Linked DNA regions of Homo sapiens. The protein of the gene in region 5 purifies or fractionates together with the protein of the main gene of each other region. This does not show direct contact. Each region holds a gene or a part of one and is shown on either strand. Other genes may lie near its edges. The genes, in order: DSG1, SRSF10, ZC3H11A, ALDH1L2, ODF2, YLPM1 and MTCL1.

Region 1 (3,500 bases), on a different chromosome or scaffold from region 5:
AAACCACAGTGGTAAAGGGAAAGACGAGTGTGATATTCCTCAACCTCACCAGTAAGCAATATTCGTCAAGACTACATCTATCACTAAACACACACTAGAATCAGAAGAATCCTTGACTCCACAGGAGATTTAACTGAGGCCCCACATTAAGGTTCAGGCTCAGGCATTGCTAGTTTACCCTGAAGAAACCTCATCCTATTGCCACTCTCTAATGGAATTTTCCTCCTAGGAAACACTTCCTAATTTGGAATTTATTTTCTCTAGTGCAATAATTAAGGTAGGAGTGCTTGATGGCTTGTGGACTTGACTATGTAGTCAAACTTAAAAAAAATGGTTAACCCTTGTATAAATCTGTGGTTGAATTTTTATTTATGTTATCTGTGAAACCAACAGGGCATCTGGCACACATTTTAGATTTTTCCCATAGATATGAACATATATTGCATATTTAGTTCTTTTTGAATTTTGCTCGAGCTATATGGAAAAGCAAAACAGAGCAAGGAGAATGATGCCAATTGCCATCGTAAGGCCAGTTACATGCTGGAGATGGACTACAGGCCACTCAGGCACAAAGAAGACTCTGCCTCAAGTTTTAGTTCCTTAGTCCTAATATAAGAGAAAAGTTTATGAATGCTAAGGAGAGCTCTCCCCTAGCAGTGGTGTTTCCATTTATTTTTCTCATTGTGATTTCTCACCTTGCTCCTAGATGACCTGAGCACGAAGTTGTGCGTTATAAATCACATTGTTGGTTTTTTAGTGGTGGGAATTGGATCTAAACCACAATGACTATGAAAAAGTGAGCTGGGGTCCTGACTACTTGCTATATTGCACGGTACTATACTTTGTGATTCGACTTCGAGCTGTGCTAGGGGAGGCGGACCCAATGGTTTGGTTAAAGTGATGGTCAGAGGAACTCCTCATGTGGCCAATGCTGGCTGTCCCTCCCAAGCTGCTCAGGCCAATGCCACCACCACTTATGCCAGCTCCACTCAGGGCACCGCTCCCAGCACCCATGCTGGTGCCAACCAGGCCACTGCTGCCTATGCCACCGCTGATCCCAGTGGTGCCACTAATTCCAGTTACGCCAGCACCAGAAACAACCCTCTCTGTCACAATGACATTGTGGGCATTGGCTAACTCGGGGTGCATACTCAGACTACCTATCATGCCGGAAGTTGGTTGGATTACTCTTTCTGTCACTACCACATTTGAAGACTCTCTAGGATGATGGATAGTCAGAGAGGTGGGTAGACTAGAGCTTGGTGCTATTACCCTTTCTGTCACTATAACATTCGACCCATCTCGCAAGTCAGGCATCTCTAACATTCCATGCAAATCAGCGCCAGAGATTGGGCCGACCACTCTCTCTGTCACTACCACGTTTGATGCTGGTCGGTTATCGTGAACGTGCACAGAGGGCTTCAGAGTGTCAGAGGTGGTGTAAGACTCGGTCACAGTGACATTACCATAGCCCAGAGGATCGAGAATAGGCTTAGGATGCAGTACACCAGGTCCCGAGGGATAGGTGCTCTCAGAAATTACTGTGGTAGTGCCGAAATGTGGGGAGATTGGTGGGTGTCCACTAACAACGGGCTCTGTTTCCTGAGGAAGGCAAACTGGTTCAGTGCTTTGTGGTGGCCAAGAAGGATCAAGGTCTGGATATGATTCTTTTCCTAGGCTGATGTCTGCCAACTTCTTAAATTTAGGTCCCAGGGTATCCAAGAAGCTGTCATCCAGGTCTTCTCCAATGAAGCTACAACAACCCACAGAGCCAGCAGGGGAACCTACACCTTCGATGTCATATATGAGCAAACAGTCATTAGATGGGCGTCCTTCATCTTCATCTGCGTAAGCATATGCTTTCTGAATTTATAGGAGAAAGAGAAAATGAAATTATGAATGCATATTTAACAATAATAGAACAGCCTTTATCATTAGTTTTTCTTCCAGAGCATTTCCAAAGAGGAATGAAATAAAACAAGATTTTAACATACTAGAGATGCTCTAAAAATCATTTTATAATTATTTGAAATAATTTGGTTAGAAATCATTTTAAGTATAATTCTAATACTATGATTTTAAAAATTTACTTAGATGGACTTATTTATAATTGTGTACTTTGGACATAAAACCATACACAAAAAAATCACATGAATTGGTTTCGAGGAGGAGCCAAGATGGCCGAATAGGAACAGCTCTGGTCTACAGCTCCCAGCGTGAGCGACGCAGAAGACGGGTGATTTCTGCATTTCCATCTGAGGTACCGGGTTCATCTCACTAGGGAGTGCCAGACAGTGGGTGCAGGTCAGTGGGTGCGTCCACTGTGCGCGAGCCGAAGCAGGGCGAGGCATTGCCTCACTTGGGAAGCGCAAGGGGTCAGGGAGTTCCCTTTCTGAGTCAAAGAAAGGGGTGACGGACGGCACCTGGAAAATCGGGTCACTCCCACCCGAATACTGCGCTTTTCCGACGGGCTTAAAAAACGGCGCACCACGAGATTATATCCTGCACCTGGCTCGGAGGGTCCTACGCCCACGGAGTCTCGCTGATTGCTAGCACAGCAGTCTGAGATCAAACTGCAAAGCGGCAGTGAGGCTGGGGGAGGGGCGCCCGCCATTGCCCAGGCTTGATTAGGTAAACAAAGCAGACAGGAAGCTCGAACTGGGTGGAGCCCACCACAGCTCAAGGAGGCCTGCCTGCCTCTGTAGGCTCCACCTCTGGGGGCAGGGCACAGACAAACAAAAAGACAGCAGTAACCTCTGCAGACTTAAATGTCCCTGTCTGACAGCTTTGAAGAGAGCAGTGGTTCTCCCAGCACGCAGCTGGAGAACTGAGAACGGGCAGACTGCCTCCTCAAGTGGGTCCCTGACCCCTGACCCCCGAGCAGCCTAACTGGGAGGCACCCCCCAGCAGGGGCACACTGACACCTCACACGGCAGGGTACTCCAACAGACCTGCAGCTGAGGGTCCTCTCTGTTAGAAGGAAAACTAACAAACAGAAAGGACATCCACACCAAAAACCCATCTGTACATCACCATCATCAAAGACCAAAAGTAGATAAAACCACAAAGATGGGGAAAAAACAGAACAGAAAAACTGGAAACTCTAAAAAGCAGAGCACCTCTCCTCCTCCAAAGGAACGCAGTTCCTCACCAGCAACGGAACAAAGCTGGATGGAGAATGACTTTGACAAGCTGAGAGAAGAAGGCTTCAGACGATCAAATTACTCTGAGCTATGGGAGGACATTCAAACCAAAGGCAAAGAAGTTGAAAACTTTGAAAAAAATTTAGAAGAATGTATAACAAGAATAACCAATACAGAGAAGTGCTTAAAGGAGCTGATGGAGCTGAAAACCAAGGCTCGAGAACTACGTGAAGAATGCAGAAGCCTCAGGAGCTGATGTGATCAACCGGAAGAAAGGGTATCAGCAATGGAAGATGAAATGAATGAAATGAAGCGAGAAGGGAAGTTTAGAGAAAAAAGAATAAAAAGAAATGAGCA
Region 2 (4,191 bases), on a different chromosome or scaffold from region 5:
AGTGGTTCTGACCCTACAAGACCACCAGAGCTGTTTCTAAGTAGTCCCCAGTGCATGCACCTGTCTCTCCTTTAAGCAGGGCTCTGTGGCTTAACCCCAGAACCCCACGCTACTCCAAAGAGCACTGCCTGCTACTCCGTGGCATCTGACCACCTGGTCCAAAACCAAAATATGCTGAATTTAATCTTAAGAATATACATCCTGTTACACTTTAACTTCATAAGAGAGAGTGCATTTACACAAGACCACAATCACAACATCAAAGGCCCACATAAATCAAGTTACAGGTTTTGTCACTAGACCAAACCAGAATAATTTTGAAAATTAACTGCTTACAAAACATTAAAAAAAAAAAAAAGAAAAATAGTTATTCTGTAGGATACATCAGGTATGACTCCTTTAATCTTGGCCATCATTCAACTTCATCTTGACCTTTAACTCTTTAAGTGCTTGTCAGAAGGACTTGTCATGAGATGCTTGGCCAAATATGACAGATGGCTTTATCTTTAACTTTGAAAAACAACCTTTTCCCCCTTTTGTAGATAAAGCGAGGCTTTGTCTCCCATTAGGCTTGTCCTTCTTCCAGCTTTTCTTTATTTTTTCTTTTCCCAAACTCTCCCTTCTCTTCAAGCCTGATCCTTAAGAGGTCTTTGGCTTGTCTACTTGCCTTAAGTGTTGAACTCTACTCTAAAGGTTCTTTCATGCTTTCTCTTTGGGGTCGCCATAACTGTACAGCTTTACATTCTCTGAGGTAACAACAGAGGACAGCAAATTAGGGGACAATATTAAAGAAGTTTACCTCATTGTTATACAATTTGTTTTTGATCAAGTGATTCAAATTAACAAACAAGAATACCAAATTTTAATTGCTAAGCACAAGAACATATTAACTTTTAAAGGACTTACATTAAAGGTAGTAGCAACCAGAGTGCATTCAAATTTAAATCACATATATAATCATCGATATGAGTTTCAGAAGCATGAATGGGAATTTATATATTTTACCATTTTTGGATTAACTTTAATAACGAGAGCAATGTGTGAGTCAGAATTAATTTTCAAAAATTTGAAGACAGACATTTATTAGAGGACAAAAAGAACTACTTTTTAGATGTTACCACTTACATAAACTTGAATTTCAAACTTCAACACCCCTCACTAATCAGCCATCTGAAGAAAGGATATTGAACATAAGCAAATCCTCTTGGACGGCGAGTGTAGAAATCAAGTGGAACATACACATCAACTATAGGACCATAACGACCAAATTCACGCCGCAAGTCTTCAGACCTAAAACATCATAAAAAGACCTCAAATTTTTATGTCCAAGTCCTTAAGATGTATAGGCAATATATCTTTTTGATGAAGGAAAGCTAGGATCCAAGAATTTGGAAGATAAAAATGCAGTTTACATTAACAGGACAACAGCAGACATATGTATGGTACAAGGGAATGACCACAACTTATTTTTATCTACAGCCGTCATTTTTCATAAAAGGTACAGCAGCATTAGGTTGTATATAAGCCTTGTTTTTTTTTTTTTTTTTACTTTTACAGCATCAAATCGACTCTAGCACTCTGAAAAATACCAAGCACTTATTTTTACTCCCCAATTTTAGCGACAGATTTACACACTTAACAGTAGATAAATATGGTCTGAAAAAGTCACAAATATCGAACTTCTTAAATAGTTAAGTGTCAAGATGACGTAAAGAGAAAATTTCTCTAGATGCTAACGTAACTATTAGAAATTATGGAAAGAATTATTTATGGAAAGAATTATTGCTTTCTTTCCTTCTTAAATTTAAGACAAAAGCAAATCACAAAGCTAGCAAAAAACCCCCACGAAACACCAAAAACCCAAACCACTTATTTTCTGTGTGTAGATTCATTATTTGTGAAATAAAAAGCCTCATCTTGTAGTAAGAACTCTTCCAAAATAATCTGAAGGCAACTCGAAACAAGGGAATGGTGAGAACAAAGCCTATTTAAGGTACGTCTGAATTAATCTAACTTAGCTGTCAACGTCCTAATGACTGACGCTTCCCAAACCTCCCTTTTCAAAGGGTGACCAGAATTTCCAGGAAATAAGAAAAACTACTCGCAACATTTAACTGGAAAAATCTAACTCCCCAAATCTCAACGCTCCCTTTCTCCAAACACCTCCAACTGATTAAAACCCCCAAATATTAACAACGGCAACAACAACAAAGATAAATGGTAGCAACATTCCTCTCCCTCGATCCCGTTATTTCATCTCACTATTTTTTGGCTGGGGAAAAAAAAAAATCTCTGGGCCAAGGGGGCGTGAACCTCGAAGAATGTGAACTTCAAATCAATGGGGGGCGGCCGTCGGGTCGCGGAAAGGCCGCGGCGGGGGGCTGCTCGCGCCGGCAGGAAGCAGGGAGAAAGGGGCTGCAAACTGCGGAGGGGGAGGGGGACCGAAAAACCCCGCCACGCGGCCCGGCGAAGGCAGAGGCGCCGCCCTCGCTCCCACGCGGCGGCTGAGGCCCGCTGCGCGGCCTAGTTCGGCGCCAAAGCGGGCGCGGGACCCGCCATCTTCACTCCGTCCCCTCCCCCGGCCCAGTGCCGCCACCACCAGGGTCCTCTCCAGGCGCCTGCGGCCTCCCCGCCTAGGCCCGGAGTACCTGCCTTGTACCTACCTGGTGTCGTCGGCCACGTTCCTGACGAACAGAGACGTGTTGGGGGGACGCAGGTAGCGGGACATGGCGGCGGCGTGTCTCGGCCGGGCGCACTAACGGGCTCAGCAAACCGTCCGCGGCTCAGGCGGCCGAGCCTCAGACACACACAGCTAGAGGGCTCTGCTACGGCAACCGACTCTTCTCGCGAGACTTCACTCCCGCCTCCACTTCCCCCTCCTACCTCCGCGCAAAGTCGGGCGCAACGGTTCTTTCCCGCGAGAACACCAGGCGTCCGCCTGCGCATGCGGAGGGCTGGCGCACGCGCCTCAGCGTCGGTGTCATTCGTTGGCTTCTTGCGGTGCCTCTTACCCTCCCCCAAGCCTGTTCTTTCTTTCTTTAGGTCTTCATTTCCCGCCGTTTTCTACCTTACACTCCACTTCATCTCCACCCCCAAATCAGGAAGCAGATGTTTTAGTCTCTAGGCCAAACTTTGCGGTTACTACTAAATGGACAGATTTTTAAACTATTTAGTTCAGAGAGGCTGCCTTAAATTTCCCGGTTGGTCCAAGTTAATGTCCTGCTTTTATTTTGCCTTAAATTTCCCGTTTGGTCCAGGTTATGCCCTGACCTGCGAAAGAAGGATTTACAGCTTGTATTGAGTGTGTAAAGGAAGGAGGTGTGTGCCCTTGCGCAGAGCTGGGCCTGTCTCTCCAGTGTTTTCAGCCTGCCTTTGCCCCTCACCCACACCCTAGCCATCTCCACTTAGTCACGCATTTGGCTCCCAACCTGGGTGGGACCAAACCTCACACTGTAGGTTCATGACTGTGGTCATTTGTAGTGTATTCTTTGTTGCTGACGGCTTCCTGGGTATGCATCGGACCTGTATTGCAGCAGTTCTCAAACTTTTTGGTCTCAGAACGCCTTTATATTCTTGTGTATTACGGAAGATTCCAAAGAGCTTTTTTTAAAAAAAGTGTGGGTTATACCTATTAATAAATAGTTAATGAGAACTTAAAATAGAGGAAACTTCGGCTGGGCTCGGTGGCTCACGCCTGTAATCCCTCCCTGTACTTTGGGAGGCCGAGGCGGGCAGATCACGAGGTCAAGAGTTTGAGACCAGCCTGACCAACACAGTGAAACCCCATCTCTACTAAAAATACAAAAATTAGCCAGGCGTAGTGGCGCGCGCCTGTAATCCCAGCTACTTGGGAGGCTGGGGCAGAAGAATCGCTTGAACTCGGGAGGCAGAGGTTGCAGTGAGCCGAGATTGCACCACTGCATTCCAGCCTGGGCGACAGGGTGAGACTCCGTCTCAAAAAAGAAAAAAAAAAAAAATAGAGAAAACTTTGACACACTCCACTACCCTTTATCACACATCATGTACCCTCTGGAAAACTCCACGTTTGTAAGAGAATGAGCATGAAAATAGCAAATAATCTTTAGTATGGTTTTGATTTTGGAGGCCCTTTTGAGAGCCATTTCCTGCTCGATAAGAGTCAACTTCTGGAGATGAGAGACTTCAGTTGGAATGCCTCCAGCGTGTGGCACA
Region 3 (4,006 bases), on a different chromosome or scaffold from region 5:
TCCCATCTGCTTTATCATCAAGTGTTTCCTTTCTTAGTAGCACAACTATATCCTTTACCCAAGTTAGGTAAAATGTTGCCACCTAATTAGAGTTCTGCTGAGCCACTACCCCAGGGGGACCTTGGGCTCCTATTATATGTGTAATATATTTAAGTATATTTTCAGTGTAAAAGCCAGAAAGGATATATGGTAAGTTAATGAGAGCTATTTCTCAAGAATGAGATTAATAGAGATTTTAACTTTCTACTCTCTATATTTCTGTATTGTTTCTAAAAAAACTTACGTGTATTAAGTTTTTTACTTTTTTTTTTTTTTTTTTTTTTTGAGATGGAGTCTTACTCTGTCGCCAGGTTGGAGTGCAGTGGTGCGATGTCAGCTCAATGCAACCTCTGCCTCCCAGATTCAAGCGATTCTCCTGCCTCAGCCTCTCGAGTAGTTGGGACTACAGGCGCGTGCCACCACGCCTAGCTAATTTTTGTATTTTTGGTAAAGATGAGGTTTCACCATGTTGACCAGGATGGTCTCGATCTCTTGACCTTGTGATCCGCCTGCCGAGGCCTCCCAAAGTGCTGGAATTACAGTCGTGAGCCACCGCACCGGCCACGTGTATTACTTTTATAACCGGGGGAAAAAGTAAAAACATTCAAAAGGGAAAATAAGGGACAATGTTAATAATGAAGCAGGGATGAGACTGCTGATTGCGACCTCCAACTAACTCTCCTGAATTTTGTCACGAGCATGAATTACTTTTCCAATACACAAATTTGCTTTAAGAAATCAAAGAAACACCCCCCCAAAGCCCAATCTCACTTCTTCAAGTAAAAAATAAACTAACAAATCATTCTACATTGCATGCTTAGGAAAAGTACAGTTTATTTCTAAATTAAATGTATACATGGTTTGGGAGATTTACTCATTAAGCAAACACTTTGGTAAGAATAAATTGAGCGCTTACTGAATGGCAGTCTCAGTTCCTGCGGCCCTCCCGCTTATTACCTCATTTGATTTAAAAACAAAAACAAAACGTTATGAAAGCCGGCTTCGAGGCATTCCTCTGAAGGGAAGGGACTCCCCGACCCAGCGCCTCCCCCGTCACGTGACCCTGTGACCCGGAGCAGCCATCTTAGGCATCGCCTCATAGAGGAACTACATCTTCCAGAATCCTCGCGCCCTGCGTCGTGCTGGCACTTTTACCGGCCGGGCCTTAGAGCGGAGCCTGTAGCCAGGCGCCATCTTTGACGCTGGCAGTCTTGGTTTTCTGCTAGTGCTGCTGCTGCTGGGAGGACGACGGACGGCAGCGGCCAAGCAAGAAGAAAGACGTGGCAGCAAGCGGGAGTCGGGGATAGTGTCATCGGTTCGGTAAAGTTTCTGTTCTCTGGTAACTAGACCCGTTTTTTTGATTCCCGGGTGGCTTGGGGCCGGGGAGGTGGGGGAGAGGGCGAGGGGAGTGGCAGCGGCCTCCCCTCGCCCCTGGGTCGCGGCCTATCCCGGGAAGTCAGAGCGGATCCTTCAGCTTCGCCGTAACGACCCCTCCCCCCCACCTCCCGGTCGCGGCCCTCGCCGGGGCTGGCTGGGAGCCCCAGGCTCCCGCTCACTTTTCCCATCCTCCCCACCCCCACCCCGTTCACCCCACCCCCACGGCGCCTGCTCCTTTCCCAGCCAACCTTCCTCCCCTCCCCCACATCCGGTGTTCGCTAATCTCGAGGAGCCCGGAGCAGCCCCGAAAACCGACTGTTCCCCCGAATCCCGAAGAGAGAACTGACACTAGATTGCTTTCTTCGGGGCAACAGTTTCTCTAGTTGAGCGGACCCTCACTGCCTAAATCAATCAGACTGAGTGCCGGGCGCTGAATTTACCTACTCTCATTCCTCTCCAGGGTCCCGGTACTTTGGAGCTTGTCTCAAACTCCACATACAGAAAGCCACCGACCTTATTCCGGTATCCTACACCCATTCCCCACTCTCATTACACTCCCACCCCTGGCCCTCAGCGTCGGAGTCAAGAGCAACAGGGACACTTCCGTTCTCCTTGTAGGACTGGTGAAACCGTAATGAAGAACACCCCTAAACTCCCATAATCGGTGCGGATTCCTATGGGGAAGGCCTATATTGTTGACATCTTCCAGGCCTTGGTTCTGGACCTTGAGAAAGAGGCTGTGGAACTAGAGATAGCGATGCTTTTTAGGGTAAATGTATGTAGGTATTGGGGGAAGGGGAGGGATCAATCGAAAAATGGAAGTGGTTTAAAGTTCATATTTCACTTTTTGCTATCTCTATAGCGTACAACTTGTGAGTTACTTACAGGCTGTAAAAGCTTCTCAAGTCTAAAAATATCTGAAAACTAAACTTGAATTAACTCTTAATACAAACAGTACTTTGAAAATGCAGCATTTAACCTTGTTTTAAAATTTTTTTCTCAAAGCATTTTTTTCCAGCCACTCACATTTTAAAAGGTTGTATTACTTTTAGTTAGAACTGAAAGGGCTCAACTAGCATTTGCTGTGACCAGTATGCGGAGTCTGTGTTGGCTTTCCAGAATTGACTTTTTGGGTTGTATTGGCAAATCACAGTCCTAAATGATGAATGTTGAATGATGCACTATGTTTTTGTTTAAATGAGATTTCCTGAAAATAGTTAATTTCAGAATTAAGGGAAATTGATGTCGCTATCATGAGGCATCATAAAAATATGTATTTTACAAGGTGAAGGCATTTCAAGTAGATATAGTTCTTGATGAAGCAGGAAGAACATGGATCTGGGATTTGGAAGACCTGGCTTCTAGCTGCTACTAACCAACTCTGTGACTCTGGGAAAGGGGGACTCAGTTCTTACTTCTGTAACATGAGGACACTGGACTATTTGAATTCAGAACTTAGAAAATTGGAAGGGACCTTAAAGCCCTCTAAGAAAGAGTTCGGGAATGTTCTCCATTGCTGTCAGTTTTCCTCCAAAAATAACCTGGCTTGGAAGTTATTGGTCCAGTGGGAATTTGATTCCCCATAGAAACTGGAGAAAAGGTAATGCAAGTAGAGAGGAACAGCTGTATTTCTGCTTGAGTAATAAACCCACTAACAGATTCTGGTACGAATTGTGGAGACATAAAGAGAATGAGTGTATGTACTCTAAGTGTACCAGTTTCTTCACTCTCTCCTGGCAGAAGATGCAACACTTTTAGTGATTCTGGGATTCTGGGATGTGTTCCTATTAATTCTAATACAGATGAAGAAGATGTGGTAGAGGAAAAGATGGTAGCAGAAGGAGTGAATAAAGAGGCAAAACAGCCTGCTAAAAAGAAAAGAAAGAAGGGTTTGCGAATTAAGGGGAAAAGGCGTCGAAAAAAATTGATTCTTGCCAAAAAGTTTAGTAAGGATTTGGGATCTGGGAGGCCTGTTGCAGATGCCCCTGCTTTGTTAGCTTCCAATGACCCTGAGCAGGATGAAGAAAGTCTTTTTGAGAGCAATATAGAAAAACAGATCTATCTACCTAGTACTAGAGCCAAGACCTCCATTGTGTGGCACTTCTTTCATGTTGACCCCCAGTACACCTGGCGGGCCATTTGTAACCTCTGTGAGAAAAGCGTCAGCAGGGGTAAACCAGGTAGCCATCTTGGTACATCTACTCTTCAACGACATCTGCAAGCAAGGCATTCACCTCATTGGACCAGGGCCAACAAGTTTGGAGTTGCTAGTGGAGAGGAGGACTTTACCTTGGATGTGTCTTTATCTCCCTCTTCTGGAAGCAATGGAAGCTTTGAATATATTCCTACTGATCCATTAGATGATAATAGAATGGGCAAGAAGCATGATAAATCAGCATCTGATGCCCTAAGGGCAGAAAGAGGGAGATTTCTCATCAAAAGTAACATTGTCAAGCATGCTTTAATTCCTGGAACTAGAGCCAAGACATCTGCCGTTTGGAATTTTTTTTACACTGATCCTCAGCACATCTCAAGAGCTGTGTGTAATATATGTAAAAGAAGTGTGAGCCGGGGTAGGCCAGGGTCCCAC
Region 4 (4,024 bases), on a different chromosome or scaffold from region 5:
GTGCCAAGATAATTACAAGTGACAGATGACAAGCTTTTCTGGGAAACATTGTCCAAGAAGGAATAGGCAAGAACTGCAGTCAAGCAGAATTACATATGCAAAAGAGCAGTGAGAAATAAGAGAAAATGGCAAATTGCAGACGGCCCTGAATGCTGGGCTAAGAAGTCTGGCTTGAGATAAACGTCCAGCTAAAGCAGGTCTGAGCGTTTTTTCCAGAGAGGTGAGGGAGAAGGGCACGTATCTATTAGGTTGATGCAAAAGTAATTGCGGGTTTGCCATTATTTTCAGTGGCAAAAACCACAATTACTTTTGCACCAATTTATTTATTTATTTTTAAGACAGAGTCTCGCTCTGTTGTCCAGGCTGAAGTGCAGTGGCATGATCTCAGCTCCACTGCAACCTCCGCCTCCCCGGCTCAAGTGATCCTCGTGCTTCAGCCTCCCGAGTAGCTGGGACTGCAGGCATGCGACATCACGCCCGGCTAATTATTTTATTATTTTATTATTTTTTATTTTTAGTAGAGACGGGGTTTCACCATGGTGGCCAGGCTGGTCTCGAACTCCTGAGCTCAGGCCATCTTCCCTCCTCGGCCTCCCAAAGTGCTGGGATTACAGGCGGGAGCCACCGCGCCCGGCCTACCGTCCTACGAGGTAGGCATCAGGATCCCTCCACAGCGAAGGCGCCCCCACTACCTATCTGTCTACAGGCGTGCCTTTTACGGGCTGTGCTATGGACAGCACTTGGGATGTCAGATTGACCACTAATAAGGTAGATCCGTATACACTGCTGCGGGGCTGAGTAACTGGTAGAGGGTCCCACAGTTAGAAAGCACCTGGACCTTGGCTGGAATTGGCGGAAAGTCCAGGCAGCGGAGAGGCGCGGTCCCTGGGACTGGGTGCGCTCTTGGCACCAGGGTCAGGGCCCACAGGCTCCAGGAAGCCCACGCGCTCCGCCGGGTCGCACCAGGTTGGCTGTCCGAACGCAGCCAGCTGGCGGGGCGGGGCCTTCCAGCTGGGGGCGGGGTCTTGACAGCTAGGGGGCGGGGCCTTGCAGCTGGTAGGGTGGGGCGGGCCGCGGGCTGTGGGCTTTGGGAGGGGTGCGGACTAGCAGAGGCCGAGAGCGGCGAGCCGCGAGCCAGGCAGTCCGGGGCATCCAGACTGCAGGCCGCGCCCAGGCCGCGCCCAGGCTGCGCCGCCCGCCTGCCTCCCGCGCTGCCGCGTCGCCAGTGCTAGCGCTCCTCTCCAGCATGCTGCGGCGGGGCAGCCAGGCGCTCCGGCGCTTCTCCACTGGCCGGGTGAGTCCGGCCCGGGCGAGCGTCCCGGCTGTCACCCTGTCCTGGTTTCCAGACTCCGGGGCGGGAGGGCCGGGGCGGTGGGGCTGGGGATGAGCAGCGATGCTTAGACTTTGCTAAACACCAAGACAGCGTTTAAAACAAACAAACAAACAAACAAAAACAGAGAGACCTCAGAGGAGGGCTTGGGGAGGGTCCCGGATGGGAACTGGCACGCAGGCCATTGTCTTCTGCCGGGAGGGGGCTGAGGATGCAGTTTTTGGACGTGTCAAGTCTGGCTGGGATGGCAAGGTGGGAACAGTCACTTGGTAAGGAGGACAGAGTCTGCTTCCTTTCCTTTTTCACTTCAATCATGAGATCCCTGGTCAAGAGCTGGAGCCATATGGAACCGAGACTGTCTCCTGGAGGAGGGGAGTATCAAGTCAATAGGGTCCTCGTTGGCGGCCTGGGAGGTGTAAGCGCTCGAGACTGGCACGCAGGGCCGGTTCAGATAATGGCACTCAAAGCTGATGGCTGCAAGCTCAGTATTCCTGAGCTGAGCTGCAGATGGCAAAATTTCTAGAATTGCCAGGCGCTGCAGAGGCAGCCACGCTGGAACACTATTCTACTGTAGCACAAGAACCGAGCTCTGGCCCAGCCCCGCGCCTTGGAATTGCATCAGCTCCTCCAGAAATGGAACCGAGAGAGGACACGTTGCACTGCGGTGCTGCCTTCAGCACCCAGGGGGCCTCGGGACTGTTTAGGGAAGAGAGAGAGAGAAAAAAAAAAAATAAAAACTGTCTTATGTATCGTATCTTTTATAGGAAGTACATAAAAGAATTTGCTTATCGATTCTTTTTCTCGGCCATGCCAAAGCCATATGTACATATGTATATATTCAGATGTAAAAAACTTGGAGGCAGAGAGAAGTCTTGAGTAGCACCAAAAACTGGCCCAAACTTGCATCAAAGGAAAAGCTTTCTGTATCCCAGACAACCCCAAATAATAAGAATTCGTTTTACTCTTTGCAACCAGTTCTAGTTACTTTGAGGTATAGTCACCTTTTATAAAACGAGGGGTGGGGGTGGGGAAGACCTGCTCTGCTAGGACTTTGGCCTGCTCTCCTGGACCCCTCATTAGCTTCCCCCACCACGTGGCACATGGGATCCCAGATGGATAGCACAGAAAGCAACGGGCTGTGCCCAATGCCTGAGCCTGTTTTGTTGGCCTCCTCTGTCAACACCTTTCACTGACTTGTCTTTTTTGGTGACCAGAAGGAAGTCTTGCAGAATGAAAAGATTTTGATAGTGCGGTTTGCATAAGATTTCAGTAATAAAAGGTAAACATCTCAGGTGGCAAATGGCATAAACAAAACTATGGATGTGGGGAAGAACTGGCGTGATCAGGGTCTAACTGTACGCAGGGGTGCATATGGAAAAGCAGTGATACTCATGGCTGGGAAGAAGACAGTTTCCTCAGTGGTCGAAAGGAAGCTACTGAGTGGTGAATGAAAAATGTGGGATGTTTTATCCTGTAGAAAATGTTCTGGACTGTGTTTTATAAGAATTATTCAAAATCAAACAGATACATGGCTGGTGGAAATATAAAATGGTACAGCCACTTTGGAAAACTGTTTGGCAGTTTTATATGTAGTTAAACATAAACCTATCATATGACCCCGGAATCACACTCCTAGGTATTTACTCAAAAGAAATGAAACCTTATTTGCCCGCATAGAAACCTGTTTATTGATGTTTCTAGAGGTTTTATTCATAATTGCCAAAAACTGGAAATAAATTGTCCTCAGCTGGTGACAGGATAAACAAGCTGTGGTATATCCATCCATACAATGGAATTCTACTCAGTTGGGGGAAAAAGGAATGAACTACTGATGCATACAACATGGATGGAACTCAAATATGTATGCTAAGTGTAAGAATCAGACTCATAATGCTACATATTTTATGATTTCATTTATCTGACATTTTGGAAGAGTAAAACTATAGGGACAGAAAAAAGATCAGTGATGTCTGGAGCTGGAGATAGGAGGAAGGATTGATTATAAATAGGCATAAAGGAATTTGGGCGGTAATGGAACTGTTCTACATCTTGATTATGGTAGTGGTTACGTGACTGTGTGTTTGTTAAAACTCACAGCACAGTACACTGAAGAGGGTGCATTTTACCCATGCAAATTATCTTTTAATTTTTATTGTTTTGAGACAGAGTCTCACTTTGTCACTCAGGCTGGAACGCAGTGGCACAATCTTGACTCACTGCTACCTCTGCCTCCGGGGTTCAAGCAATTCTCCTGCCTCAGCCTTTTGAGTAGCTGGGATTACAGACATGCACCACCATGCCCAGCTAATTTTTGTATTTTTAGTAGAGACGAGGTTTTGCCATGTTGGCCAGGCTGGTCTTGAACTCCTGGCCTCAAGTGATCCTCCTGCCTCGGCCTCCTAAAGTGTTGGGATTACAGGCATGAGCCACTGTGCCCGGCCTAATTATCCCTTTATCTTTAAAATTTAAAAATCAAACAATGCTTTTAAGTTTAGTATTAAAGCAGAATGAAGGATGAATAAAAATAAAGCTTTCAGAACCTAGCAAAATCCAAGGGGAAAATTAGTTTATAACACTTCTTGATAGAATTCATTTCTCCATCCTCTGTCTTAAATAAAAGGACTTAGAAATACTTAATGATTTCAGCTTAGTGATGGCTGGATCTTTTTAACTAAAACAATGGTTTGCTTTAAA
Region 5 (3,500 bases):
CGCCCGGCTAATTTTATACATATATATATATATATATATATATATATATATATATATATTTTTTTTTTTTTTTTTTTTTTTTAGTAGAGACGGGATTTCACCGTGTTAGCCAGGATGGCCTCGATCTCCTGACCTCGTGATCCGCCCGCCTCGGCCTCCCAAAACGCTGGGATTACAGGCGTGAGACACCACGCCCGGCCTCTTGCCTACCTCTTAGAGATGCTCACAGAAGCTCTCGAGGAAGACAGTCACGGGTCTAAGTCATGCTTTGCCAGGTACCAACAGTGTGATGCTGGGAAAGTCACTTAACTCCTCCCCAAGCTCAGTTTCCTCATATTTAAAACTGGGATAATACCAGCTAACTAATAACATGTTCTAAGCTATACTGAGCGCTTCTCTATGCCAGGTAACATGCTAGGACCTTTACCAGGATTATATCATTGAAGACTCACACCACCACCATGAAAAGATTATTATCAGCCAGGTGTGGTGGCTCCCGCCTGTACTCCCAGCACTCTAGGAGGCCTAGGTGGGTGGATCACTTGAACCCAGGAGTTCAGGACCAGCCTGGGCAACACGGCGAAACCCCATCTCTACAAAAAATACAAAAATTAGCCAGGCATGGTGGCATACGCCTGTAGTCCCAGCTACTTGGGAGGCTGTGGCAGGAGAATTGCTTGAGCCCAGGAGGTCGAGGTTGCAGTGAGCTGAGATTGCACCACTGCACTCCAGCCTGGGTGACAGAGTGACATGATAGATAGATGATAGATAGATAGATAGATAGATAGATAAACTCTACCTTGACCCTTTCCTCAAAAGGAGGAAATTGAGCTTCAAAGGAATTAAATGATTTGCTCAAGATCACAATGCTGGTAAGTGGCAGAGCTGGGCCCCAAGGCCAGGGCTTCTGATTCCCAAAGCCGTACCCTTCACCTCTGACTGCCTCCAACAATCCGTAAATAACAGAGAACGGTCAGATCAGAAAGGTCTTGGGAAGGGTGACTGGCAAGAAAGGGCAGAAAAGAGTGGGGAAGTGCCCCCACCACAGTATACTGGCTGCTCCATTCAAACTGGGCCCTCCTGGCAGGCCTGGACCAGGCATGCCTTTTGGGACAGGTGGTGCCTACAGGTGGGCAGATCCTGATCATGCTGTCATGGAGTGTCTCCCCAGGCTGAGAGGCCCCCTTGCTCTCTCCCACAATGCTTACCACTGAAATGGAAGCAGCTTTTCCTCTGAGGTCTGCCTAGTACCTTCCAGGGCCTCGAGTCCCTCAACACTTCCGCACACTAAGCAAAAAACAGCTAAGTGGCTGAAAGTCTCAGGTCCTAGGAAGAGGACAGAGATGGGACCAAGTGCCTCTAACCTCTCCAGTTCATCCACCTTCAGACTCAGCTGTTTATTTTCCTTCTGGGAAGCCTGATGTTTCTCTCTCGCCATCTCCAGCTTGTCCCCCTGGTGTTCGATCTAAAATGACAGGAACACAGACTGGTTTACAAAGGAATTTCCCGCTAGAGCCCTCCCCTTTCCCTATGACCTGTTGTCCACACCCAGGAAAGGGGCACAGTGCCCTCAGCAGGTGTCCAAGTCTCAACGCACAACCTAGAGGAGAAAGGACAGCAGGGACAGGTTAGGCCCAACTCCAAAGACAAAAGGCTCTCCCCACACTGGGAGAAACCAGGTTTGATGCTAAAGAATGACAAAGATGCTTTCTCGATCAGGGGAGGCCACTCAGAGAGACCCAGCTAGGATCCAGGACAGACATGAGAAGGCAGAAACAGCTGGCAGGGCTAACTGGCCCATACAAACCAACCACAGAGCTTTACCTGTTATGTTGCTGGTACTATTGATCTCAACCTCCTCTTAACTGGGGACAAGTGCAGGCAAGACAACAGGAAATCTGTCAATCCTTTTGAGTTGGCAAGTTTGAGAATTTACCCAGAGGGCTGTTTTATGCAGAAGCCTCAGCTATCAAGGCTCAAAGTCCCTGAGAATGCTCAGGTTCAACGGAGAAGGCAGGCAATGTAAGGTTACAGTACTGAGAATGTGGGCTTGGGAACCAGACAGAGCTGGCTGGGTTCCAATCCCTGCTTACTAGGTACTAGCTCTGTGATGGTGGGGAATTACTTCTCCTCTCTATGCCTTGGGCTGCTTTCTGTAAAATGGGGAAAATAACACATGCACCTCACAGAGTTCCTGATGGAATTAAATGAGAGAATGCAGGAACACAGAAGAGGTGCTCAAAAAATGGTAGCCCCTTTTCTAATTATCACAAGTACACACGTCAAGAGTGGGAAAGGGGCCTTGCCCAAGGTCACGCTGCAAATGAGTGGTATATAATTTCTTGGACACTGCAGGCCGTAGGCATGGTTCCAGTAACCCAGAGACAGACTGCTTCTGGGAGAAAGGGATGCTTGCTTCTTTCAGGACAGAATCTCAGGCAGTGCATCTGTTAAAGAGTCAGGAGAAGCAGCTAAAGCAAGAGAAAAAAAGAAATTCTACGGCTCGGTGTCTGCTGGCATCTCCCAGCTGTGGGTGTGGAGCTGAGGACAGCTGCGGAGCACACAGGCAGAGGCAGCAGTCTTGGGTGGGGGCAACAGCAGGAGGGCCCAGTGACTCCACGCAAGTGACGGCTCCTATAACTACAATCACTTTGTGCAAACACATGGCATTTGGCACACCAGACTTTTATTTCACAGCACTGATGATAGCTCACTCCTTTTAAAAAGCAGCAGCCAAGAAAAAGGAAGTAGTCCTCCCTTGGGGGGCGTGCAGCTCATCTTGGTATGCGGGCCCCTGCTCGGGTCAGTTCGTGGGACCCTTTCTGCCAGTCCCTTACCCGGCTGCGCAGGTCTGATATGATGGCTGTGAGGTCGATGTTCTTCCGCTCATAGCCCTGCAGTTGGTCTTGGCACTCAGCCAGCTTCGCCTCCGTGATCTTCAGGATGTCAGGGAGCTGCTGCAGGTCAGCCAGCTGAGACTGGAACTGCCTTCGTGCCTGAAACAGGAAGGAAAGACCCACAGGAAGGAAAGACCCACAGTTAGGAAAGACCTGGCTCCTAGTGGAGCCAGGCAGAGTCCTTTAGAGTTAGGGCAGGGCTGACACAGTCCCCAGTGGAGGATCCTGCAAAATCCACAGCAGAAGTGTGGCCTACACTCCCCGCTGGCCATTGAGCAGGTGGCTTGCCATTCATTTAGTTATCCCGTAACAATGGCAACCACACAGTAAACACCAAGACCCAGGCATTGTACCAGGGGCTCTCTGCACACTTGCTCATTTAATTCAGACAACCTGTAAAATAGGTGATGCTGTCCCCATACAAGTATAGTAAGCATCAAGAGAGCTAAGTCATTTGCCCAAGGTCATTCAGCTAAAAACTGGTAAACACAGGATTAAAGTCTAGTCTAACTCCAAGCCAGGTGCAGTGGCTCACACCTGTAATCTAGCACTCTGGAAAGCCAAGGGGCGCAGATTATTTGAGGTCAGGAGTTCGACACCACC
Region 6 (3,500 bases), on a different chromosome or scaffold from region 5:
TCATATTTTGTTTTTGGAATGTGTCATTCAAAATTTCTTATCGTGAAATATTTTTAAAATACACAAAATAGAGAAAAAAGTATGATTCCCCATACATACCCATCATTGAGATTCAACAGCTATCAAGATTTTGCCATGTTTACTTCACCTAGGCCTTTTTTATTATTGTTGCATATATATATATTGAGACAGGGTCTTGCTCTGTCAGTCACCCAGGGTGGAGTGTAGTGGCATAGTCTCAGTTCACTGCAACCTCTGCCTCCCAGGCTCAAGCCATCCCAAGTAGCTGGGACTACAGGTGCATGCCACCATGCCTGGCTATTTTTTTTTTTTTTTTTTTTTGGTAGAGACGGGGTTTTGCTATGTTGCCCAGGCTGGTCTTGAACTCCTGAGCTCAAACAGTACACTGCCTTGACCTCTCAAAGTGCTGGGATTATGGGCATGAACCACCACACCTGGCCTCTGCTGAAATATTTTAAAGCAAATCTTAGATCTTATGTCATTTCATCCCTACATTCTTAGTCAAGTACCTCTATAAAACAAAACAAAACAAAACCAAGACCTTTTCTTTTTTTTTTTTTTTTTTGAGATGGAGTCTCACACTGTTGCCCAGGCTGGAGTGCAGTGGCGCGATCTTGGCTCATTGCAACCTCTGCCTCCCGGGTTCAAGCGATTCTCCTGCCTCAGCCTCCTGAGTAGCTGGGATTACAAGTGCATGCCACCACGCCTGGCTAATTTTTGTATTTTTAGTAGAGACGGGGTTTCACCATGTTGGTCAGGCTGGTCTTGAACTCCTGACCTCATGATCCAGCTGCCTTGGCCTCCCAAAGTGCTGGGATTACAGGCGTGAGCCACCGTGCCCGGCCAAGACCCTTTCTTAGATAAACACATTGTTAACACCTAACAAAGTTAACAGTTTCTTGGTATCATCTAATACCTGATCCGTTCAGATTTCCTTTATTGTTTCATCATACTAATGAACTAAAAATAATTCTTTGATACCATCCATGTTAAAATACCCCAAATTGACTCAACAGTGTTGTTGTTTTCTGTCCTCACAGTCTGTTCCCAAACAATGTTTTTTTGGTGTGTTCAAGTCAGAGTCCAAACAGAATACTGAAAAGATTCTTAGTATAGATCAGGGTTTCTCAGCTTCGGCACTATGGACATTTTGGGCAGGATGATTCTTTGTTGTGGAGGGGCTTGTCCTATGCATTGTAGGATGTTTAACAGCGTCCCTGACCTCTACCCATTAGATGCCAGTGGCAGCCCCCAGTCCGACAACCAAAAATGTTTCCACACATTGCCAAGTATCCCCTGGAGACAAAATTACCCTCTGTTGAGAACCCTTGACCTAGGTCAGTCCCTCCTATTTTCTTTTTCTACCTCATGTCTTTGAACTTGATGAAAAATCTGTTGTCAGTTTTCCTGTAGAATGTCTGACATTCTGCATTGTCTGCTTTTTCATGGTGTCACATTTGACTTGTTCCTATGTCTTCCACATTTTTTTTTTTTTTGAATTAGAAGTTAACTCTGGAACCTTCATTTAAGTTCAGCTTTCTTTTGGCAAGTGTTGCATTCCTCATGGGACACCCGATGCCTGGTTGTCCCACTGTTAGTAATGCCATTGGTCCCTCTACTGTAAAGCTTTCTATCAATCTTGCATCTAATGTTTCAGTCTACTGGTTCATCAATTGAAGAAAGACCTTGCCTAAGTAAATTATTTCATTAGACAGAGGTTGCAACCTGGTGATTTTTTTTTTCTGCCATTTCTTCCACAGTTACTATATGGAGTTATGTAAAGAAAAACTTTTGCCACAGATATTTGATTGGAAATACAGTTGGTATAGGAAGGACAAGATAAATACTTGATATTTTTCCAGGTGTTTTCTAGTTTTTCGGGTAAAGTGTTGATGATTTAATGGAATGTGTTTTTTTGTTTGTTTGTTTCTGAGAGAGAGTCTCACTCTGTCGCTCAGGCTGGAGTGCAGTGGTGAAATCTCGGCTCACTGCAACTTCCACTTCCTGGGTTCAAACAATTCTGCCCTAGCCTCCCAAGTATATGGGATTACAGGTGCATGCTACCATGCCTGGCTAGTTTTTGTATTTTTAATAGAGATGGGGTTTCACCATGTTGGTCAGGCTGGTCTCGAACTCCTGACCTCAAGTGATCCACCTGCTTCGGCCTCCCAAAGTGCTGGGATTATAGACGTGAGCCACTGCGCCCGGTCGGAATGTGTCTTTTTGAATAATTAATTTTTCTATGTGTTTAAAGGACTGATTTATTTAGTTAAAGCTGTTGGCTTTGATTAGTTTTTAGAGGTATCATTTATTTAATGTTTAAATACTTACGGACTAGCAACTATGTGCCAGGTACTATGAGTACTGTGCTTAATACTGGAGATGAAATGGTTAACAAGATAGACATGGGACCTGCCCTCATTGACTTCTTGTTTCAGTTGTGGGGGAAGGGAGAAGACATTTAGTAAGTAATTAAGAGGAGACGTACAGAGTGCTATGGGATTATAAAATATCACTAGATTATTCCCCAAGGAACTGGCAAAGGCAAGTTTTTTGTTTTTTGTTTTTTTTTTAAGTTACCACTGTATTCACAGTACCTTGCATAGGATCTAGCGCATAGGAGGTGGAGAACAAATATATTTTAAATAATTGAATATAGCTGGGAGCGCTAACCTAATTAAAGAGGATTCCCTTTGTAAAGTGATATTTTTTATTTTTTATTTGTTTTTATTTTATTTTATTTATTTTTATTTTTTTGAGATGGAGTCTCGCTCTGTTGCCCAGGCTGGAGTGCAGTGGCGCGATCTCGGCTCACTGCAACCTCCGCCTTCCGGGTTTAAGCAATTTTCTGCCTCAGCCTCCCTAGTAACTGGGATTACAGGTGCCTGCCACCACGCCCGGCTAATTTTTTTGTATTTTTATCTTTTTTTTTTTTTTTTTTTTTTTTTTTTTGGAGACGAAGTCTCACTCTTGTTGCCCAGGCTGGGGTGCAATGGCACGATCTCGGCTCACTGCAACCTCTGCCTCCCGGGTTCAAACAATTCTCCTGCCTCAGCCTGCCTCAGCTACTCCCAGGAGTAGCTGGGATTACAGGCGCCTGCCACCACGCTTGGCTAATTTTTGTATTTTTAGTAGAGACGAGGTTTCACCATGTTGGCTAGGCTGGTCTCGAACTCCTGACCCCAGGTGATCTGCCTGTCTCAGCCTCCCAAAGTGCTGGGGTTACAGGTGTGAGTCAGAGTGCCCGGCCATTTTTTTTTGTATTTTTAGTACAGAAGAGGTTTCACCATCTTGGCCAGGCTGGTCTTGAACTCCTGACCTCGTGATCCACCTGCTACGGCCTCCCAAAGTGCTGGGATTACAGGCGTAAGCTGCCACGCCGGGCCTGTAAAGTGATATTTAAATGAACTCTAAAGAATAAGTAGGAGGACTGGGTGCTCACACCTGTAATCCCAGTTCTTTGGGCTCATTAGAGGCCG
Region 7 (4,088 bases), on a different chromosome or scaffold from region 5:
TTACAGTTTGCACGGTGTGTTCTGGTATTTGCTAAATCTTCACACATGCTCAGGTGGCAGTACGTTTTAATGATACAGGCGAGGGAACTGGGGCTCAGAAAGGTCTAGTGCCTTGCGCATGGGAGACTCAAGTGGTAGAACCGGTGGCCGGGCTCCGGGCTCTGAGCGGAAAGCCTGCAGGACTCGGAATCCTGAAGACCTGGGTTTAAACCCGCTCAGCTAGGGACTGGGTGAGGCATCGCAGGCAAGTGACTTCACCTCCCAGCGCCGGTGCCCTAGTCTTCACCGAAGACAGCAATTCCAATCTGGGACTGTGGTGAGGCTTAAATAAAACACTGCTCAGTAAGTGGCCAGCAGGCCTGGCTCGCAGCCGGAACTATAAATGTGAGTTCCCTTTCTGACCCCCAGGTTTGGCGAGGGCTCCTCCTGTTTGGGCAGCAGCTCCTCCTGAGCTCCCGAGGCCACGGGGGTGCCAACTGTGGAGCGCCCGCCGTGCCGTTTAGACGCGAGAGCTGCGTCGGGTACCAGCGATCCTTAAAGGAGCTCGGGGACCAGGGGCACAGCTTGGAGAGGACAGCGAGGGAGGTGACTGGCCTCGGGGAGGCGGGCGGTGGATGGAGAGGCATGAGAGGGGTGTTGTCAGCCGCGGCACACGCCTTCCCCAAGTGGCCGGCGCCGCCCCTTGCCACCACTTCACCTCCGCCTCTTCCCTTCCTCCCTAGCTCCTGGCAGCGTCTCTAGGGCCTCAAAAAGCAAGGAGGGTCCCCGGGCAGCGAGGCCCCATGGATCCAGCCTGCGCCTGCTCCCAAGGGCGCGCAGGTCCCGCCCCTGCCGGGCGCCCGCCCCCCGGGGAGCGCAAGCCCCCGCCCCTTCCCTCGCCCCTCCCCTGCACGGCGCCGGCTGGCTGGAGGCGGGGCATGCGCACGGGCCTGGGCGAGGGCGCTGGGCGGCGGGGAGGTGGGGCGCGCGCGTGCGGCTTCTCTCAGCCGGGAGCGGCGGGGGCGGGCACGGGCAGCAGCGGGCCGGCGGTGGGCGGGGAGCGGGACGCGGGAGCCGGGCGCGCGCCGCCAGCGCCGCCGCGGCACCGGTGACCGCGAGCCCGGAGCGCGAGGTCCGGGGATGCGAGCGGCCGGGAGCCGCCGCGCTGCTGAGCCGGGAGAACTCGATCCGCGGTGACCTCAGCGAGGGGCGAGCGCGGCGGCGGCGAGCCCCGCGGGAATCCTCGGGGCCGGGGTGCGGGGGGCGGGGACGGCGGGAGCGCGGGGCGCAGCCCGGGCGGGGCTGGGACAGTGATGAGAGAGCGCGCGGGGAGGCTGCACGCCGCCGCCGCCGCCGCCGCCGCCGTCGTCGTCCGGAGCATCTGCTGCCTGAGCTGCTGCCGGCGGACCCGGCCATGGAGACACTGAACGGCCCCGCGGGCGGAGGTGCCCCGGACGCGAAGCTGCAGCCGCCCGGCCAGCACCACCGCCACCACCACCTCCACCCGGTGGCCGAAAGGCGGCGGCTGCACCGTGCGCCCTCGCCCGCCAGACCCTTCCTCAAGGACCTGCACGCCCGGCCCGCCGCGCCCGGCCCGGCCGTCCCCTCCTCGGGCCGAGCCCCGGCTCCCGCCGCCCCGCGCTCGCCCAACCTCGCGGGCAAAGCGCCGCCCTCGCCGGGGTCCCTGGCCGCGCCCGGCCGCCTCTCTCGGCGCAGTGGCGGCGTCCCGGGCGCGAAGGACAAGCCCCCGCCGGGCGCCGGGGCCAGAGCGGCGGGCGGTGCCAAGGCTGCCCTGGGAAGCAGGAGGGCGGCGCGCGTGGCGCCCGCGGAGCCGCTGTCCCGGGCTGGGAAGCCTCCCGGAGCCGAGCCGCCGTCTGCCGCTGCCAAGGGCCGCAAAGCCAAGCGCGGCTCCCGGGCGCCACCCGCCCGCACCGTCGGCCCCCCGACCCCGGCCGCCCGGATCCCTGCCGTGACCCTCGCGGTGACCTCGGTGGCCGGGTCCCCGGCCCGCTGCTCGCGCATCAGCCACACGGACAGCAGCTCCGACCTCTCTGACTGCCCCTCCGAACCCCTGTCCGACGAGCAGCGCCTGCTCCCTGCCGCCAGCAGCGACGCCGAATCCGGCACGGGCTCCAGCGACCGTGAACCCCCACGAGGAGCGCCGACGCCGAGCCCCGCAGCCCGAGGAGCGCCGCCGGGCAGCCCCGAGCCCCCAGCGCTCCTCGCCGCGCCCCTCGCCGCGGGCGCCTGTCCCGGGGGCCGGAGCATCCCGAGCGGGGTTTCGGGGGGTTTCGCGGGGCCCGGCGTGGCGGAGGATGTCCGGGGGCGCTCGCCACCGGAGCGACCAGTCCCCGGGACCCCCAAGGAGCCCAGCCTGGGCGAGCAGTCTCGGCTCGTGCCAGCGGCGGAGGAAGAAGAGCTGCTGCGGGAGATGGAGGAGCTGCGCTCGGAGAACGACTATCTCAAGGTGAGCCGCGCCTCGGCCGCAGGTGTCCCGGGGCGCCCCCGGAGGGCCTGGCTGCGGCGGGGACCCGCCAACCCCTCCTTCCCGGGCCTGTCCAGCGCCTTCTCCCTCCTGCTCTCCACGGTCCTACCCCCGCATTGTCAGGCATTGGCAACTTAAGCCCAAACTTCTGGAAGGAGAAGCAAGACCTGTGGGACCCCGCCAGTTCGCAACCCACTTCTCTTTTCTCGCGTCTAGAACTCTTGCGTCTCTTCGCTGATACTTTTACTTTTGTTGACCTGTTGGGGCAGAGGAGGCTGTAATCGTTTTGGGGACATCAGCGGACGCCCCCATCCCCGCTCAGAACGTGCCAGCCTCACCTGTAGGAACAGGTGATCCTTCGCCAGGGAGCTCTAGCCGGGCCACGTGCGGGCGTGGCGGTTCAGGATAATGCCACTGGAGGGCCCCCGGCTACGGACCCGCTTGCCCCTTCTCCTGCAATTACGGAAAGAGCTGGGGGCTCTCAGGGTCTCCTGGGCTCCGACATCCCGGGTAGAGGGGGCCGCGCCGTTTTCGGTGAGCAAGCTGAAGCTCAGTAGAGGTCCTTGGAGTGTGGCCCGGGTTGAGGAGCAACGGTGTTGCGCGGGCCAGTCCTTTGTAAGCATCCAGGAGCCGGCTTTCTGTGTCAGGAGAGGCCACGCCAGCACTTTCTAAGGAATCGCGGCGCCTGCTGCACTCTCTGAGTATTTTCCGGCAGGGCCTGCGGGCAGTGGCGTCTTAGTCGCCTTAGCACTGGGTGCTTAATCCGGCTCCATCTTTTCTCCACGGAGGGGGCCTGGTGCTGCAGACGGGGTTCCCGGGGTCAGGACGATCCAGGTGACTTGAGAGAAAATAAGGGGAGTTGTATTGACACCAACTGTTTTATTTATTGTGATCTTCAGGTTAGTAAACAACTCCAGTGGCATCAATCTGTGTATCTGTTAAGTCTTAATGAGCAGCCAACCAAACCCAGGGGTGTGGCCCTGCTTCTTCAGTGGGTTATGTGATTTGAGCTGTTTTCTCAGCAAATGATGAGCTAACCAATACGGGCCCAGTTTTTGGCTAGTGAGATTGAGGATTGGGCTTTAAGGTGCATGGTGGTGAAGTCTGCAGTTCACACGGAAATCAGAGCACATTAACTGCTGGGTGATCTCAAGCCTAAATTTCTTATGGAGCTGCTCCAACCAACTGAGCCTTGTGGTTATTTTACTTTGTGCAAGAAGTAACAGTGAGGCAGAGAAAGAGAGGTGATAAAAGAAAGATTGGGACTTAAAGCAAGATATTTCAGATAGTATGTTTGTTTTTGTCACTTACTCTTAGGTAATAGACAACGGAGTGAAGTTCAAAGGCAACTATGTTGTGGGTGACTCCATCATGAAAGCAGCTCTTTTGTAAATCTTCAACAAATGTAAGCTCCCTGAGGGTGACCAAGATAATCTTGTTGTTTTTGTATCCCTGGCTCTTAGCATAACCCCTGACTTACTTTCTGATTGAATGATGTTTATCCAAATGACTGCTGTGCAAGGGAAAACTGTATTTCTTTAAAGAAGTTTCTCATTGCATCTTTGATCTTAAGGTAGGCTATCCATCATTTTGAAGTTCATTCTTGGTGCAACTGGTTATTTCC

Evidence for each region.
Region 1: the proteins of ODF2 (region 5) and DSG1 purify together in Homo sapiens (co-immunoprecipitation; one large-scale study listed by IntAct). This does not show direct contact.
Region 2: the proteins of ODF2 (region 5) and SRSF10 purify together in Homo sapiens (co-immunoprecipitation; one large-scale study listed by IntAct). This does not show direct contact.
Region 3: the proteins of ODF2 (region 5) and ZC3H11A purify together in Homo sapiens (co-immunoprecipitation; one large-scale study listed by IntAct). This does not show direct contact.
Region 4: the proteins of ODF2 (region 5) and ALDH1L2 purify together in Homo sapiens (co-immunoprecipitation; one large-scale study listed by IntAct). This does not show direct contact.
Region 6: the proteins of ODF2 (region 5) and YLPM1 purify together in Homo sapiens (co-immunoprecipitation; one large-scale study listed by IntAct). This does not show direct contact.
Region 7: the proteins of ODF2 (region 5) and MTCL1 purify together in Homo sapiens (co-immunoprecipitation; one large-scale study listed by IntAct). This does not show direct contact.

Annotation. Positions count from the first base shown.
Region 1 is NC_000018.10:31,352,660-31,356,159, reverse strand, and holds part of DSG1 (desmoglein-1 preproprotein), read right to left. Parts: intron 2,261-3,500; exon of another isoform or gene 2,224-2,260; intron 1,864-2,223; coding exon 814-1,863; 3' UTR 1-813. UniProt on the Homo sapiens protein: Component of intercellular desmosome junctions. Involved in the interaction of plaque proteins and intermediate filaments mediating cell-cell adhesion.
Region 2 is NC_000001.11:23,977,528-23,981,718, forward strand, and holds the start of SRSF10 (serine/arginine-rich splicing factor 10), read right to left. Parts: upstream 2,801-4,191; 5' UTR 2,729-2,800; coding exon 2,664-2,728; intron 1,291-2,663; coding exon 1,186-1,290; exon of another isoform or gene 1,126-1,185; intron 1,102-1,125; exon of another isoform or gene 384-1,101; intron 1-383. UniProt on the Homo sapiens protein: Splicing factor that in its dephosphorylated form acts as a general repressor of pre-mRNA splicing. Seems to interfere with the U1 snRNP 5'-splice recognition of SNRNP70. Required for splicing repression in M-phase cells and after heat shock.
Region 3 is NC_000001.11:203,794,417-203,798,422, forward strand, and holds the start of ZC3H11A (zinc finger CCCH domain-containing protein 11A), read left to right. Parts: upstream 1-1,206; 5' UTR 1,207-1,378; exon of another isoform or gene 1,379-3,106; coding exon of another isoform or gene 3,107-4,006. Other genes in the region: ZBED6 (zinc finger BED domain-containing protein 6), read left to right, coding at 3,107-4,006. UniProt on the Homo sapiens protein: Through its association with TREX complex components, may participate in the export and post-transcriptional coordination of selected mRNA transcripts, including those required to maintain the metabolic processes in embryonic cells.
Region 4 is NC_000012.12:105,081,659-105,085,682, reverse strand, and holds the start of ALDH1L2 (mitochondrial 10-formyltetrahydrofolate dehydrogenase precursor), read left to right. Parts: upstream 1-1,224; 5' UTR 1,225-1,246; coding exon 1,247-1,294; intron 1,295-4,024. UniProt on the Homo sapiens protein: Mitochondrial 10-formyltetrahydrofolate dehydrogenase that catalyzes the NADP(+)-dependent conversion of 10-formyltetrahydrofolate to tetrahydrofolate and carbon dioxide.
Region 5 is NC_000009.12:128,494,006-128,497,505, reverse strand, and holds part of ODF2 (outer dense fiber protein 2), read right to left. Parts: intron 2,997-3,500; coding exon 2,838-2,996; coding exon of another isoform or gene 2,775-2,837; exon of another isoform or gene 2,666-2,774; intron 1,466-2,665; coding exon 1,365-1,465; coding exon of another isoform or gene 1,209-1,364; intron 1-1,208. UniProt on the Homo sapiens protein: Seems to be a major component of sperm tail outer dense fibers (ODF).
Region 6 is NC_000014.9:74,766,316-74,769,815, forward strand, and holds part of YLPM1 (YLP motif-containing protein 1), read left to right. Parts: intron 1-3,500. UniProt on the Homo sapiens protein: Plays a role in the reduction of telomerase activity during differentiation of embryonic stem cells by binding to the core promoter of TERT and controlling its down-regulation.
Region 7 is NC_000018.10:8,704,268-8,708,355, forward strand, and holds the start of MTCL1 (microtubule cross-linking factor 1), read left to right. Parts: upstream 1-1,288; 5' UTR 1,289-1,393; coding exon 1,394-2,446; intron 2,447-2,490; exon of another isoform or gene 2,491-2,872; coding exon of another isoform or gene 2,873-2,998; exon of another isoform or gene 2,999-3,869; intron 3,870-4,088. UniProt on the Homo sapiens protein: Microtubule-associated factor involved in the late phase of epithelial polarization and microtubule dynamics regulation.